2 separate regions of the Homo sapiens genome follow, and region 2 is linked to region 1. Evidence: fine-mapped expression QTL. Tissue or cell type: whole blood. Region 1 holds a variant in brackets; the other region holds the start of a gene. All regions are shown on one strand. Distances are from middle to middle. Region 1 has its middle 31 kb from the start of ADGRL1. Region 2 holds the start of ADGRL1 (adhesion G protein-coupled receptor L1).

Region 1 (2,897 bases):
TTTTTTTTTTTTTTGAGACTGAGTCTCGCTCTGTCACCCAGGCTGGAGTCCAGTGGCACGATCTCGGCTCACTGCAAGCTCCATCTTCCAGGTTCACGCCATTCTCCTGCCTCAGCCTCCTAAGTAGCTGGGACTACAGGCGCCCGCCACCACGCCTGGCTAATGTTTTTTTTTGTTGTTGTTGTTTTTGTATTTTTAGTAGAGATGGGGTTTCACCATGTTAACCAGGACGGTCTCAATCTCCTGACCTCGTGATCCGCCCGCCTTGACCTCCCAAAGTGCTGGGATTACAGGTGTGAGCCACCACACCTGGGCTTTTTGTTTTGTTTTGTTTTTTGAGACAGAGTCTCACTCTGCAGCCCGGGCTAGAGTGCAGTGGCACGATCTCTCCTCATTGCAACCTCCGCCTCTTGGGTTCAAGTGATTCTCTTGCCTCAGCCTCCCAAGTACATGGGATTATAGGCATGCACCACCACGCCCAGCTAATTTTGTATTTTTAGTAGAGATGAAGTTTCACCATGTTGGCCAAGCTGGTCTCTAACTCCTCAGCTCAAATGATCCACTCTCCTCAGCCTCCCAAAATGCTGGGATTACAGTTGTGAGCCACCACACCCAGCCAAAAATTTTAAAAAATTAGCCAGGCATGTGGCACACACTTGTAGTCCCAGCTACTTAGGAGGCCAAGATGGGAGGATTGCTTGAGCCCAAAAATTGGAGGCTGCAGTGAGCCATGATTGTGCCACTGCACTCCAGCCTGAGTGACAGAGTAAGACCCTGTCTCTTAAAAAAAAAAAAAAAAAGATGAAGTCTTACTGGACTAGAATGAGCCCTAAATCCAATGACAAGTGTCCATCTAAGAAGAGGAGAGGACACAGAGACACACAGAGACCATGGAAGCCTCTCCATGGAATGACTGGAATGATGCAGCTTTGAGTTGAGGAACACCAAGGATTACAAGGAGCTACCAAAATCTAGGAGAGAGACAAGGAAGGATTCTTCCCTAGAACCTTCAAAGGGAGCCCAGCCCTGCCAACACCTTGACTTTGGACTTTGAGCCTGCAGAACTGTAAGAGAATAACAAACTTATGTTGCTTCAAACCACCAAGTTTGTGGTAATTTATTGCAGCAGCACTAGAAAACTAATACAGTTGGGTGCTTCAGAAGTGTACCTGAGACACTCTGATTTGAGTAAAAGTGGTTTATCTGTAAGGTGATTGCAGGGAGTGCTGGCAGGGGATGGAGGAGATGAGATGCAGAAGGGAGGGCAGCCAGTACATCATGTGGAAATGAGCAGGTTATTCTGCGATATCTAGGTCTTAACTCATCTTGGACAAACCCTGAGAGTTATCTTATGCAAAGGGTGAGGGAGCTGGGGTATTTATCCTCCAACTCCCAGCCATTGTTAGTTGAGGTATGCTAGCAGGGAAAATGAATTCTCCAGAACTTCTGGCTGCCTGCATGCACCAGAGCAAAGCTGTCAGGCAAAGAGTCACAGGTACAGGTGGTATGAAGCCACTGGATTGACGTGCATGGTGTAGGGACAGCCTCTAAGATGGCCCTCAATGTTCCAACCCTTGCATTAATGCCCTACCCTTGAGTGTGGTTAGACTCTATGACTTGCTTCCTGCCCATAGAATGTGGCAAAATCGATGCAATGTCACTTCTAAAATTAG[G/A]TCACAAAAAAGACCACGCCTTTCATCTTGGGTGCACTCCCTTTTTTTTTTTTTTTTGGAGATGGAGTCTTGCTCTGTCGTCCAGGCTGGAGTGCAATGGTGCAATCTCTGCTCACTGCAACCTCCACCTCCCGGTTCAAGTGATTCTCCTGCCTCAGCCTCCCAAGTAGCTGGGATTACAGGCATGGGCCATTATGCCCAGCTAATTTTTTATTTTTACTAGAGATGGGGTTTCACCATGTTGGTCAGGCTGGTTTTGGACTCCAGACCTCACCCACCCACCTCAGCCTCCCAAAGTGCTGGGATTACAGGCGTGAACCATTGTGCCCAGCTGGATGCACTCCCTTTCTTGCCCTCTCTTCTGCTCACTCTGAGGGAAGCCAACTGCCAGGCTGTGAGCTGCCCATCGGAGAGGGTCACAAGGCCAGGAACCAGAAGAGGCCTCTGACCAACAGCCAGTGGGCAACTGATCCTGCCAACAACTCATGAGCTTGAAAGTGGATCCTCCCCAGTCGAGCTTTCAGATGAGATCATGGCCTCAGTCACCAACTATTTCTTTTTAATTGAGATGCATCCATGCCCATTTGCTTTTTGTTGTTGTTAGTTAATTAATTAATTAAAAAATAGAGATAGGGTCTCACTCTGCTGTCCAGGCTGGAGTGCAGTGGTGCGATCAATAGCTCCCTGCAGTATTGAACTCCTGGGCTCAAGGGATCCTTCTACCTCAGTTTCCCAAGTAGCTGGGACTATAGGTGCATGCCACCACACCTGGCTAATTTTTTGTTTAGTTTAGTTTAGTTTTGTTTTGAGATGGAGTCTCACTCTGTCACCTAGGCTGGAGTGCAGTGGTGCAATCTCGGCTCACTACAACCTCCGCCTCCTGAGTTCAAGTGATTCTCCTATTCAGCCTCCTGAGTAGCTGAAACTACAGGCCCATGCCACCATGCCCGGCTAGATTTTGTATTTTTAATAGAGATGGGGTTTCACCATGTTGGCCAGGCTGGTCTCAAACTTCTGGCCTCAAGTGATCCACCTACTTCAGCCTCCCAAAGTGCTGGGATTATAGAGGTGAGTCACTGCACTGGCCTAAAATTTATTTAATTGACAAATTAAAATTGTACGTATTTATGGTGTATGACATGATGTTTTGAAGTACATATACATTTCAGAATGGCTAAATGGAGTGAATTAACATATATATTACCTCACATGCCTATTTTTGTG
Region 2 (2,897 bases), 32 kb before region 1:
TGGAGAGAGAAGCAGAAACCAATGGTCTGTCCCCAAACAGCATGGAGGTCAACGGCCCGGAATAGACATTCACCCTCAGGTGTGCCCCACTGGATCCGACCTCCTCTAAGCAGTGACTCCCTACCAGGATAAGGGAGCCGGGCAAGCAGAGAGGGGAAGAGAGAAAGACAGAGAGAGATAGAGAAAGACAGAGAGAGTGAGAGAGAGAGAGAGAGAGAGAGAGAGACAGACAGAGAGAGAGAGAGCGCGCGAGCCAGCCATCTTGGCAGCCATTTTGAACCCCTCCCCCTCCTGCCCCCAGGCACACATGTTGGGAAGTGGGATGTGGGAAGACAGACCCCAGCTCTGAGTCCGGTGGAAGCCAGGCGGAAGGGGGGGCCCTGCCTGGAACTGGGATACAGAAACACCCACGCAGCTGGCATGGCTGGGGGTGGATGGGGGTTGGAACAGGAAGAAAGGGTCCAGGCAGGTACAGTGAGGTGTTGGCCAGGGATGGGGCAGTGTGAGGACCCGGACTGGAAGTGTAGAGACAGGGGTGTGTGTAGCCAGCGGCTGTCTTCAGATGGGGGCCAGGGGTGCACTGGAGAGATACCTGGGAGGGCATTTTCTGGACACGGCTGGAGCAAACACAGCATCCCCCCACCCCACCACTTCAGGCCTGGACTCGGGTCCCAGGACCGTCAGATGGGAGGATGACAACCAAACCCTCGCAGCTCAATCCAATGCGCACCTGGGGTGGGGGTGGGGAGCTGTCCTCAAAGCACGAATAATCCGAGTGGATCAAACCTGCCGGCCTCCCGTGCTTTAACCCGGCACCACGGAGAGAAGGTGCTGCCCGGCTGCACCCCCTCCTCCTGACAGCGGCGCCCCCCGGACTGCGGCCGGCTGGACACCCAGACGGACCCCTCCCCATCCCCCGCGCCACTGCCTCCCAGAGAAAAACAACCCCCTCGCCCAGCATCCTGTGGTGCCAGCCCCCGACACGGCTCCTCTGGGGCGCGGGGCCGGCGCGCGGCGCGCACACGCACCCCCTCCGCTCACACCCAGACACCTACACAAACAGGGCGCCAAGCACCCGCGCGCACACGCACCGGGGACACGCAGGCACCGCCGCGCCGCTTCCCCACAAAGGCTGGCGCGCGCGCGGGCACACGCAGCCACGCGCGGGCACACTCGCGGTCCCCTCCCCCCGCCAGGCACCCTGCGGTAGCCCGTCCGCACCCCCGCGCCCCGGGCGCTCCGTGGGGGCCGCCCCTCCCAGGCCCCTCGCCAGTGGGGGTGAGGTGCGGGCTGCCCCCGACGCCCCTCCCGCTCAGGTGCGGTGCCCCGCGCGGCTCCCGTGTCCCCTCCCCCCTCGCGGCCAGGACAGGCCCCGGCCTCCCATCCTTCCCGCCTCCCCTCTTCCACGCGCCCCGCACACCTGGCCCAGGTGCGGCTTCGCCCCTCGCCCTGGGCCCGCAGACACTCACCTGTCCAGCGCCTCTCTGGGGTCGGCCCAGCGTGTCTCTCCTGCGGCTCGGCGAACCCGGGCCCCCCGCCCGGCACATCTCCCGGAGCCGGGGCTGGGGGGAAGCGGGTAGGAGGTGGCGGGACGAGGGCGGCCTCCGTGTCCCTTCCTTCCCCTGGCCCAGCACCGCCGCCGACCAAAAATTAGGAAAAAAAAAAAAAAAGAAAAGAAAAGAAAAAAAAGAGGCGGATTACACGGATCCAAAGGCGGCCCCCTCGCGGCGGCGGAGGCTCGGGACTGGGGGCGATCGGGTCTGCGCCCCTCCCGGGGAGGGAGGCGGTGGGGCGGGGGCGGCGTCAGAGCGCCGGGGGCTGGGGCGAGGCGGAGCGCCCCGAGGCGGCGCCGGCAGCGGCCCGCATCTCCCCCGCAGCTCCGCGGCCCCGACGGAGGCGGCACGTGTGCGCCCAGGCGACTTCCCAGCCCCCTCCGACGCCGGCGGTGGACGAGGGGTTAACGGGGCAGCCGGGGCGCCCCTGCAGGCCCCCGCCGCCCGGCGGCGCCGCTCCGGGGCCCGCGCGGCCCCATCAGCCGGGGCCTCCTCGGCAGACGGCGGGGCGGGGGCACCGCAGCGCCGACAGCTCCCGCGCCGACGGCTCGGGCTCCCCGCAGTGGCCGCGGGGAGCTCGGGTTGGGGGCGGGCGGCGCGGAGCTGGCGGAGGGGGGCGGCGCGGCTGGAGGCGGGTGCCGCGGCGTCGCGCCCCCGGTGCGGCCGGAGGGGGGGCGCCGGGCCGGGCCCGTGGGCACCGCAGGACGCGCGGACCGAGCCGGCGCCGGGCACCAGCAATGACAAGCCGCCTGCTCGCCCCGCTCCCCGGCGCACCCGCTCCGGGAGGGGGGCGGTGGGCGCGCGCAAAACCCGGCCCGGAGTCGCCGCCCGGGACTGGCCGCCGCAACCCGCTTGAGCGCCCCAGGAGCCGGCCCGAAAACCCGGGCTGGACTTTCCTTCCTTTCGCCTCCTCTCGCCTCCTCCCTGGAAAAGCAGGGAGAGGGAAAGCGACGTGCTGGAGCCCCGCGTTGGAGCGGGGAGTGGGGGAAGGGAGACAGGCGTAAGGAAGACCCGGAGCGGATTTTCCAGTGAAGTATAAGGAAAGGCGCCGAGCCCGGGGAAGGAGGGCGCAAATGGGGAGATCTGGAAGGGTTGTGCAAAACCCGAGTTGGATTAGATAAAGATGGGAGGAACGGTGTTGGAGCGGGGGGTTGGGGGGTAGATGCGACATGGCCAAATGCACCCGGGGCACGCAAATTTCGGGCCGGATTCTTTCTCGGGAGACGGAGTAATGCGTCAGGCCTAACGCAGTGGAAACAAGCAAGACCCGGCCCGGAACTCCCGGGACCTGGGTTCGCATGGTGGGGGGTTCTGGAAGGGGGATGCTTAGTGGCTGAGGCGACT

Evidence for each region. PIP is the estimated chance that this variant, and not a neighbour inherited with it, causes the effect.
Region 2: it holds the start of ADGRL1, and the variant in region 1 is fine-mapped to the expression of ADGRL1 in whole blood (TOPMed, PIP above 0.99). The same link has a PIP of 0.9 or more in blood mononuclear cells.

The regions. Positions count from the first base shown.
Region 1 is chr19:14,236,168-14,239,064 of GRCh38, forward strand. No RefSeq gene overlaps it. Among named protein-coding and RNA genes, the nearest start is that of ADGRL1, 31 kb to the left of the region's middle. The variant G/A (reference allele first, on the strand shown) is at 1,674.
Region 2 is chr19:14,204,516-14,207,412 of GRCh38, forward strand. ADGRL1 (adhesion G protein-coupled receptor L1) reads right to left here and starts at 1,654. Exons shown (of 23, transcript NM_014921.5): 1 at 1,470-1,654. RefSeq lists silencers at 2,268-2,327, 2,348-2,447.